Linked DNA regions of Homo sapiens: region 2 is linked to region 1. The links come from fine-mapping of genetic effects on gene expression. Tissue or cell type: nucleus accumbens. Region 1 holds a variant in brackets; the other region holds the start of a gene. All regions are shown on one strand. Distances are between the middles of the regions. Region 1 holds the start of LOC124908048 (extensin-like). Region 2 holds the start of ANKRD30BL (ankyrin repeat domain 30B like).

What was found.
Region 2: it holds the start of ANKRD30BL, and the variant in region 1 is fine-mapped to the expression of ANKRD30BL in nucleus accumbens (GTEx, PIP 0.96).

The regions. Positions count from the first base shown.
Region 1 is chr2:132,040,031-132,045,411 of GRCh38, forward strand. It overlaps LOC124908048 (extensin-like), which reads right to left and starts at 1,692. Exons shown (of 4, transcript XM_047446884.1): 1 at 1,554-1,692. The coding sequence starts at 1,692. The variant A/G (reference allele first, on the strand shown) is at 2,938.
Region 2 is chr2:132,159,567-132,164,947 of GRCh38, forward strand. It overlaps ANKRD30BL (ankyrin repeat domain 30B like), which reads right to left and starts at 2,386. Exons shown (of 6, transcript NM_001358416.1): 1 at 1,922-2,386. The coding sequence starts at 2,139. RefSeq lists an enhancer at 2,679-3,179.

The sequences.
Region 1 (5,381 bases):
TTGGGGGGAAAAGCATACTTAATTAGCTAAGACTTCTTATTCTAGGCTTGACCCTGTGTTCGACATCTTTTTAATTTGTAGTTGCATAGGCTGCTCTCTGACACTGGTTAGTGATCTGGAAGCTATATTAACGTTAGGAGAGGTGGTGTATGAGCACTAGAGGTATCCTTGCAAGGGAAGACTTGTCTTATGTCAATACGTCTTTTTTTTGCACACAAGAAAGTCAATGTTTGAGTCTTCTAAAATCTTCCTATTTCCAAGTTGCAGAGTACAATTGATTCCTAAACAACGATCTAATTTTTGACTCAGAGACGTGGCAAGGTAGTGAATCACCATTATAATTTAACAATCTTCAAGATAAAATTATTTCTCTGATATTTAGATTTTGCCCAATTATTAAGATATTTGGGTGTTTCGTTAAGAATGGAAGACTCTAGTCTCTTGAGCAGAGACTATAAAGGCCTCAGATGATCATTTATAATTTTATGCTCTTTTCTTTAACACCTTCAACACAGTTGGAAGCAGCCAATATTCCCCAGTGTTGTTGTGTTTTTTAAACCAAATGCATGGTTCAGTGGTAGAAAACTGGGCTGATCCAAGCTGTTTTCAGTAAACACTTCATTTCAGGTGACCTATTTCATATTAAATAATCTCTAGATCCTGTCTTCAAAACTAACTAGATCAGATAACCTACCCTAGATTTTCCCCTTTAGGGTCTGTTAGCTGCAGTCACTTTTGTGAAAATGATTGCGATGAAAAGATAGAGTTGTAGATGGGGAAAATGTTTTGACTAATTTAAGCATAGTGGTATTTAATATGAGAATTTAAGTTACACACATTTGAAAATTATAATGGAGTCTCTTGGCTGAGCTTTAAAAAAAATAGCGTTTAGGCTAAAAAGGGAACTGCTACCTCTCCTAAAATCAGAAAGATGTTACAGTAATTCTCCATTCTCTAGAATTATCAGGAAGCACCTTTGTGATGATTTACTTTTGCTCTTGGGAGTGTGAGCCTGTGTAGTCGTGGAACCGTCAATTAGAGTGATGGCTTTCTGATCCCAAAGTCATTCGTTCTGAAAACAATATTTTTCATAAATTTGAATGTGAGAAGTTTTGATCTTGCCATTCCCAAGTAACTCTCTTAATAAGAGGCATCAGCATGCTTCAGTGACAGCTGTCACCTTCCAGTGCTGAGAGTCATCTTTGAGTTCTCCATTTCACTCCCTACACTCCAATTTAGCTGCAGTTCTCTTGGCCAGTCCTATGAAATACATCCATGGCCTAACGACTTCTCACCACTAATACCACTCATACTTACAGCATTCTCACCTAAGTCACTACCTTTTTTCTCTGGATTACAATAGCCTCCCAATTTATTTGCTCACATAACCTATTTATTCTACACAGTGCACCAGATACACCCCTTTGAAATGCAAACGGAATCATATTATTCTCTGGTGAAATTATCTCATATATTCCTATCGCATTTAAAATTAATTCAGAATAATCCCATGATTATCAAAACCCTATGTGCTCTTCCACAACATGATTTACTTCCAAGATATCTCTTCTTCAACTTTTTTTTCACTGTACTGAATTGGTGACTAAAAGTCATATTTTTGTTTTTGCTTAAAAAGTCTTGACTTGTAAATTTTTCAGTTTCTCCTTTATCCACAGGTAACTCTTTCCTCATAAGGCGAATTGCTTGCTTCCTTGAGTTCTGCTCTCAAAGATACCCTTCATGTTCTACCTAATATTAATAACTTTAATCATTCATTATTCCATTACTATGCTCTATAGTGTATACAATTTCTGTTCTTTGTCCTGTTATTAACTAAATTATTTATTTGTTCCAGTAACGTATTCCATAAATATTGTACACATAAAAATTATGTTATTTTTATTGCTGTATGCTCAGCTGCCCAATAACAGTTTGAGGATTAACATATTTGTTAAATGCACAAATACATTCTTTCACAAATATTTAATAATTTTATATTAAACTCCCTATATACTTACAGTATGAATTAGATAATTCAGAATAAACATTCCATTGGAAAAAACTAAACAATTTGTTATAAAACATCCTTAAAAGCATCAGAAGGTTAATACAGACATGAAGAATTACAGGACCAAATTAAGAACGGTATGGAAGCCTGTTTGTGAGGCTTATGTTTGGGTTATCTCTTTACTTAGAGTGACTATAAATCTCAAAAGAGAACTAAAGGGAGAAATAACCATATCTACTAACATGGTAAGGGTATTTAAACATCTCTTAGTAATTGAGAAAATTGAAAGAAAAGAAAAAAGAAAGGGAGAAAGAGAAACAGAGCAAAAGGGATAATGAAGGAGAGAAAGAAGAAGAGAAAGGAAGAGGAAGAAAAGTAAAAAGGAGGAGGAGGGGGAGGGAGGAAGAAAGAAAGGTGAAAGGAAAGAAAGGTAAAGTTTTTAACAGCATAATTTATCCTTGTAGAATATGAATGTTGGTCTATTTGATGATGTCCCACAGATTCCTTAGTCTCTGCTCATTTTTTATCTGTTTCTCAGAATCAATATTTTCCATTTTCTTATCTTCAAGCTCATGACTTTTTCTGTGTGTGCAAATATACTCTTAAATCCCTCTGGTGATTTTTAAATTTTTATCATTGTAGTTTTCCACTCCAGAATTTCTGTTATCTCTTTGTTGATATTCCTACTTTTTAATATTTTTTTCTGATTCCTTCATTTCTTTGTTTATGTTTTCCTTTTGACATTTGACATTTGAGTATAATTAAGAGAGTTGTTTTAAAGTCTTTGTCTAGTAAGTTTGATGTCTGGGTTTCCTTAGAGATATTTTCTGTCAATTTATTTTGTCCCTTTGAATGACCCATACTTTCCCGTTCTTTGTATGCCTTGTAACTTTTTTTGAAAACTGGACATTATAATAATTATAATTACT[A/G]TGTGGTTACTCTGTAAATCAGACCCCCCCCTACAAACATACTAACGTTCTGTGGTTTTAAATTTTATTTACTTATTATATTGTTAAGGATTTTTTTTTAGTGAAATTTTCCAAAGTGATTAACAAAACTGTTTGCTTTATAAGGTGTGGTCACCCAAGTCTTTTTGTTTCCTTAACAAATGTTAAGATAATGTTTTGACTGATTTTCTTGTATGTCAGGAACTAAGCAAACAGGCAAATACAACAAAAACAAAAAGAAAAACAAGTAATCATTATCCAGCAAAATAGGTCTCTAGGCCATGCAGACTGGCTTTGTGCTGGGTTCTTTAAAGCCGGGACAAAGTGTGTGTTCACTCTTGCACTGAGTGAAGTTCAAGTTCACTCTTGCACAGAGCCTGCACTGAGGGGAGGGATCAGCGAAGGTAAAAGTGTAGGGTCTTCTTATGACATTTGTCAGCATGTGGCTTAACGTATGCATACATGTGACTTTCTAGACTCTCCCATGTACGTGAATGATTTTGAATGTCTTAGTTTTCCATATACTCTACTCCAACTTTTCTTCCTGTGCTGAAGGTGATCTACTATATGTGTAAACTCTAATTTTTGCCCTAAGCATCTGTGGCTTGTTAGGTCTCCTTGTAGAGTTTCTTAATAATGTCCATTCCTTATCTGTTCTGTATCCTAGCAACACACACAAAAAAGCCTTTCATTAGTCCTTTAGGTATCCCCCAGACCAGTCAGAACAGACACATAATAATTTGAGGGTAAGATCTTCTCTTGTTCCTTTGGACGATGGACCAGGTTTCCTCACTGGGAACGTGGGCTTCTGACACTTCAAAACAGCCAATTTGCTGGGGCAAAGGCAAGTTAAAAACGTCATAAAGTTTTCAAGTTGTCTTGTTCTTGAGTCTGCTTTCACTTGGTTGTTGTAATCTTTTGACCATTTTCCAGAGTTTTGGCAAAGTTTATTCGGACAGTTTCTCTTAGTTGTGTGATGTTTCTGTGGGGAAGTGAAAGATTGCAGTTGTCTCCACTGCCATTTTGCTGATGCTCCTCTTTTGTCAATTTTTGCTTCATGTTCTTATGCTTTGTTATTAGTTCATGTATTAGTTTTCTAGGGCTGCCATAACCAAGTAACACAAACTGGGTGCCTTGAACAACACAAATTTATAGTCTTATAGTCCTGGAAGCTAAAAGTCTGAGACTGAGGTGTCAGCAGGGATGGTCCCTTCAAGGGCTATGAGAGAAAGTCTGTTCTGTGCCTTGTTTCTAGCTTCTGGTGGTTTAGTGGCAGTCTTTGGCATTTCTTGGCTAATCTCTGCCCTCATAATCACATGGTACTCTCCCTGTATGTATGTCTCCCTCTACTCAATTTTCTTCTTTTTATAAGGACATCAGTCATATTGAATTCAGGCTCATCTGATTTTATCTTAACTTAATCACCTGCAAAGAACCTATTTCCTAATGAGGTCATATTCAGTGGTTAGGATTTCAGCGTCTATATAGATGAAACAATTTAGCTCATATTTGTGCATACATGATTGTAATAGCTATGTCTTCCAAAAGTGCTGACCCCCTTATTACTACAATATAAATTTTTAAAATCCTATTCACATTTTTAATAGTCTATATCGTGTGTTATGAGTATAATGAGTTCAGTGTTCTTATGATTGCTCTTTGCATGATATTTTTTGTCATCTTTTTACTTTCAATCCATTAGTATCCTTGCGTCTCAGCGTATATTGGGATCACTTGTTTTAATCCAGTCTGAGAATCTCTGCCTCTTGAATGGATTTTAATCTGCTCACATTTAATATTATAATTGGTATAATTCTATTTATGTCTGCCATTTTACCGTTTGTTTTGTGTATTTCTCAAATATTTTTCTTTATTGCTTTATTTTGCAATGAATGAATATTTTCTAAAATATGGAACTTTAGATTACTAATGAATTATTTTAGTATATATTTTTGGGAATTTTTGTTGTTGTTGTAAGTTTACCATATAGGTATATGGAAAATTAATTATTCAAATCATCTTCCAATTTATACTAGTAAACTTTTAGTAATACATAGAAACATCATTCTTATACAAATCTCTTATATTTCCTCCATTTTAAAGTATTATCACTTTACACATTATATCTATTAAAGTTACAAAGCCAACAATACATTTTAGTAATTACTACTTTACCATCTAGAGTGATTACCTTATCACAATACATTTTTCTTCCAACTACCTCCTCTTTGATGTTACTGGAAAATATGTTATAGATATATTACATTTCTACATGTCAAATACTCAGCAATACATTATGAGCATATTATTATTATTATTATTATCATTAAGACGGAGTCTCCCTCTGTCACCCAGGCTGGAGTGCAGTGGCACAATCTCTGCTCACTGCAAGCTCCATCTCCTGGCTTCATGACATTCTTCTGCTT
Region 2 (5,381 bases), 120 kb after region 1:
TGCAATTTATATCTCTAACTTAAATTGCTCAATTATAATTAGCGGGTTTTTTGTTGATTTAAGTGAATTATCTATAAAATGACGATTTAAAAATCTAATATGTATACACACACTCACATACATGTGTAGTAAATATTTTACAAGTATGCTGCCTTTTATTTTTTCTCATTACAGTTTAATTTAATTTTGTTTTGCTTAATTATCCTTCAGACTGCTTGCTTCTGAGCTTCTTAGAAAGGTGTTGTCAACATAAAAATGTACCTGTGTAAATAGGTATTTATGTTTTCTTCTGGTGCTTTTATCATTTTGTATATTAAAAAAATTTAATCTATATTCCATCAGAAATTTACTTTGTGGCATAAAAATCTAGTTTTCTCCAAAAAGCAGGCATTTCACTTATGAAACTAATTCTTTCCCTACTAGTATAACCTGTGAGCATTATCAAGTTCTAAATTCTTAGATATTTGGGTGTTTCTGGATTTTCTACTCTGTTGTATTCATTTACCTGTCTTTTCAGCTGTTATCAAATAATTTGTGATTTATTTATTTATTTTTGAGACAGAGTCTCACTGTCTCCCAGGCTAGAGTGCAGTGATGGGATCTCAGCTCACTGCAACCTCCGCCTCCCAGTTTCAAGCGATTCTCCCTCCTCAGCCTCCCGAGTAGATGGGCTTACAGGCTCCCGACATCCTGCCTGGCTAATTTTTGTATTTTTGTAGATTTGAGGTTTCACTATATTGGCCAGGCTAGTCTTGAAATCCTGACCTCAGGTGATCCACCCGCCTTGGCCGCCCGAAGTGCTGGGACTACAGGCATGAGCCACGACGCCTGGCCCTTTTTTTTTTTTTTTTTCAAATTTTATTTATTTATTTATTTATTATTATTATTTTGAGACGGAGTCTTGCTCTGTCACCCAGGCTGGAGTGCAGTGGTGCGATCTCGGCTCACTCCAAGCTCTGCCTTCCAGGTTCACACCATTCTCCTGACTCAGCCTCCCAAGTATCTGGGACTACAGGCGCCCACCACCACGCCCGGCTAATTTTTTGTATTTTTAGTAGAGACCGTGTTAGCCAGGATGGTCTCGATCTCCTGACCTCATGATCCACCCACCTCGGCCTCCCAAAGTGCTGGGATTACAGGCATGATCCACCGCGCCTGGCCATGGCCCATTTTGTGCAAATTAATAGCACATTTTGAAATCTAGAAGGGCAAGACTTTTCTACTCCGTTACAAAATGTTTTAAATGTCACCACAATAGTAAAAGACAGCGTGTGTAATTTTAAAAATGTTAAAACGTTGATAACTTTATTTGGTTTATGTAAAACTGATAAAGAACTTGCATCTTCAGAAAAATGAGTCTTCTTAAATTCGAAAACATAAACCATCTTCCCACCTCAAAGTTACCTTCTAAGGTCCCTCAGCAAAGAATATATTTACATAGACATTCATTGATATTGAAATGGATACTGGACTTTATCCAAAAAATTTTTAGCCAAGAAGTTAATATATTATGGGAATTATTTCATTATGCACCATTTCATAATGTATCTAACATCTTTTAAAACCTGTACATTAAAAGTAAAACCCTGTATGTACTTAATTTTATAAGTTAAATCACTTTAAAATTCTCTACACAGTGCTCTGTGAGAGGAAGTGGGAGTGAAGGAGAAAGCAGCTAAAGTTTGGGGTTGATTTTAAGGTGGCCTGTGCCCTCCGCCCTGCAGGGCGCCCTCATCCAAGGCCTGGGGGACCTGCCCGGGAAGAAGGCCAAGACCTCGGGGCCCAGGACGGCCGCCCCGCTGCCCGCCACTCCTCCACCTGCTCCCCTCGTCCCCAGGACCCCCAGGCCCCACTCTGAAGGGGCGATCCTCCCACAGCCTCCTCCTCCTCCTGCAGCCCCGGCTCAGGCAGGGCCTGGTACCTCTTCTTCGCATCTCTTATGTTCAGGTCCATTGTCGTCTTCTTCATCATCCTCTCCAGCTTCCAGGCTTGGCCCCGGGAGGCAGCTTTGTGGATCTTCCTGAGATCCCCATGGTGAATCACGTAAGAGTCGTTGTTGGTGTAGACCAGCTGACTGAAGGGGCTCGGGCGCTCTGGGCCCGTCTGGCCCTTGACAGGGGCGGCAGAGAGCCTCTCCATGGCTGCAGCCACCTGCTAGAGAGAGCCCGTGCCTCCCGCTGCTCGCCCTTCCCCAGTCCCCGCCGCTCGCCCTCGCCCTTCTTCAGTCCCTGCATCCGCCCTGACAAGACTAGAAATCTCAGTCGGGCCAAGCTTTTGGACACTCCAACCTCTCCCGGGAGAAAATGGCTGCGCAAAACCGTTAGGCAGCTGAGCAGAACCGTTAGGCACCTGAGCAGAACCTTTAGGCAGCTGAGCAGAACCGTTAGGCAACAGCGCATGCGCAACTCAGCAGACCTGGGAGACACGCGAGGCAGGAAACCGCCCTGGCTGCGCTTCGCCCAGCACGGCGTGCAGGTGGCACCTGCTACTGAGGCGCTATCGGGCTGGCGGGGCTCCCTGGAGCGGAACGTGGGGGGCTCCCTGCCACATGGCCTGCTTGACAGAGCTGCCCCTGTCCCCTCCTCAACCTGAGATCCAGGAGCTGGGCCCTGGCGCTGGGCATCGTGCAGCCTCCAGGGTGGCGCTGAGCGTCGGTTCCCGGCCTCTTGCAGCCAGGGACCCATCCCTGACTTAGGCGCCTGGAGGCTTCTGGCCCAAGTATCCGCGCGGCTGGTGGCGCTGGCAGGGTCAGGGTTGCAGCCTCTCCTGCCACGTGCCATGTTCAGGTGGCAGCTGCAGCTGAGCCCATGGTAGAGGCTACAGGGTTGGGCCCAGACCGCTGAGCATCGCCGAGTACATCGCCCTTCCACCCGGGGCTCTGCTCTTCCTCGGCTCGCGCTGGCAGCGCAGGCTTGCCACCACTGGGCCCTGTACAGCTGCGGCGATGAGGCTTTGCGGCAGGTTCCCACGATCCTGCAACTGAGGTCCCACTGCCTGACTTAGGCGCAGTGGCGGTGTCCGACCCTGGGGTTCGCCTGCTGGTGGCGCGGACAGGTTCGGGGGTTGCCACCGCTGCTGCCACCTTCAAATGCCAGCTGCAGCTGAGCCCACGGTAGAGGCTGCAGGGCTGGGCCCGACGGCCTGAGGGTAGCCGTGTGGCACACGCCCTCCCACTCTAGGCCCTGCTCTTCCTTGGCTCGCGCCCTGAGCGCTGGTTTGCAGGCTCTGGGCACTGTGCAGTCGCCAGGATGCGGCTGAGCAGCAGGTTCAGCGCCGCCTGGGCCCAGAGGGGAAGAGGGGAGTTTGGGGTTGCTTGGCCGTATTTGCCTGTGCGCCAAGTGCAGGTAGCGGCTACAGTTCTGACAGGCACGGATGGCGGGTCCCGTTTAGAGGGCTTCAAGGTTCCTGAGAGCGCCCGCTGCCAGGCCTCAGGATCCCTTCCTCGTTGACCAGCATCTGGAGTATGGCAGTGGCGCTGGGTCATCTGCAGCCCTCCTGGATGGGGCTGAGCTGCAGTTCTCACCCTTGGACTGAGAGGGAAACTCGGCTGAGTGGAGCAGATGGAGAAACAGTTAAATTGAACTTATCTATAAAGACTTCCAGGCTGGGTGCAGGACCTCATGCCTGTACTTACAGCACTTTGGGAGACCGAGATAGGAGGATCACTTGATCCCAGGAGTTTGAGACCAGCTTAGACAACACAGGGAAACTTTATCTCTATAAAAATAAAACCAATCAGCCAGGCATGGTGGTGCATGCCTGTGGCCCCAGCTACTTGGGAGATTGATTGTGGCAGGATCACTTGGGCCTGGGAGTTCGTGGGTACAGTAAACTGATTGTGCCACAAACAAGGAATGAGAGGTCCTGTTGCTCCCCATCCTTGACAGCATTTGACCTTTTCAGTCTTCTGGATTTTGGTTATTGTTTGATTGTTTGTGCCGCTGCACTCCAAGCCTGGGCAACAGAGACTCTCTCTCAAAATAAATAAATGAAAGACTTCTAGTCACTATATCTTATCTATGTCGAATTGTTTACACATCTAGCTTGAAGAATTAAAACCCACAGAGCCCTCTGATTATGTGATAGGGACCATGTGATTAAAGTGGGTGACCATGTTCTTGCCTCCAGGGGGCCCAAGTCAAGGGATGGGTCCCCAGCTGCAGGAGGGTGGGAATGGATGCTCAGCACCACCCCGGAGGCTACACAATGCCCAGCCCCAGGGCCCAACTCCTGGATCCTGGATCATGAACAAAAACCCAAGAATTGAAGACTTGAGTGTTAGATATGCTCATTTCTGCTGGGATATCATTGCTTCTAGACCGTCTTAGTTTACAGAGCAAAGAAATAAATGTGTGTATACAAAGCTGTGTATACACATAACTATAAATATTTCTAAATGTAATGTGTGTAAGTGTTAGTTCATACTGATGTCTACGACTCAATTCTTTTATCACATGATCATTCCGGCCTTCTCCCCTTGCTTACATGTAACCTCCCACTTTAATAATGAGAAACCAGGCTCCTGTCATTTGTCATCCGTTTGCTTAACTGTCTAGTTCCAATATACATTCATTCTCTATCAATATCAGAATCGCTATCCCATTTCCTGTAGGAGACAGCTATACCAACCAGATCACATGAGTTGTTTGCAGTTTCTCTTCCTTTCAGTCTTCATGCATTTTCTTTGTTTCTTTTTCTTTTTCTTTTTTTTTTTTTTTTTTTTTTTTAAGATGGAGTTCTGCTCTTCTTGCCTTCTTGCCCAGGCTGAGGCTGGAGTGCAGTGGCGTGATCTCGGCTCACTGCAACCTCTACTTCCCAGGTTCAAGCGATTCTCCTGCCTCAGCCTCCTGAGTAGCTGGGATTACAGGCACCCGCCATCATGCCCAGCTAATTTTTGTCTTTTTAGTAGAGATAGGGTTTCACCATTTTGGCCAGGCTGGTCTCAAACTCCCAGCCTCAGGTGATCCGCCCACCTTGGCCTCCCAAAGTGCTGGGATTACAGATGTGAGCCACCACAGAAGGCCCATCCATTTTCTAAGATGCTTATGTCAGCACGTTTTTCCCACTCCCTAGAGTGAAGTGGCTTTATACATTTGTAGTACTTTAGATTTTCTATCACATTCTGCATTCCATCTCAGGATCCCCAGAACACCTACTTTGTTGTTGTTGTTGTTTTAAAATTTGCATATATTAAGTGACATTCTTTGTTTTTTAACAAATGCAGGCCAGGTGCAGTGGCTCACGCCTGTAATCCCAGCACTTTGGGAGGCCAAGGCGGGCAGATCACGAGGTCAGAAGATGGGGACCATCCTGGCTACACGGTGAAACCCCGTCTCTACTACAAATACAAAAACAAAATTAGCCAGGCGTGGTGGCAGGCA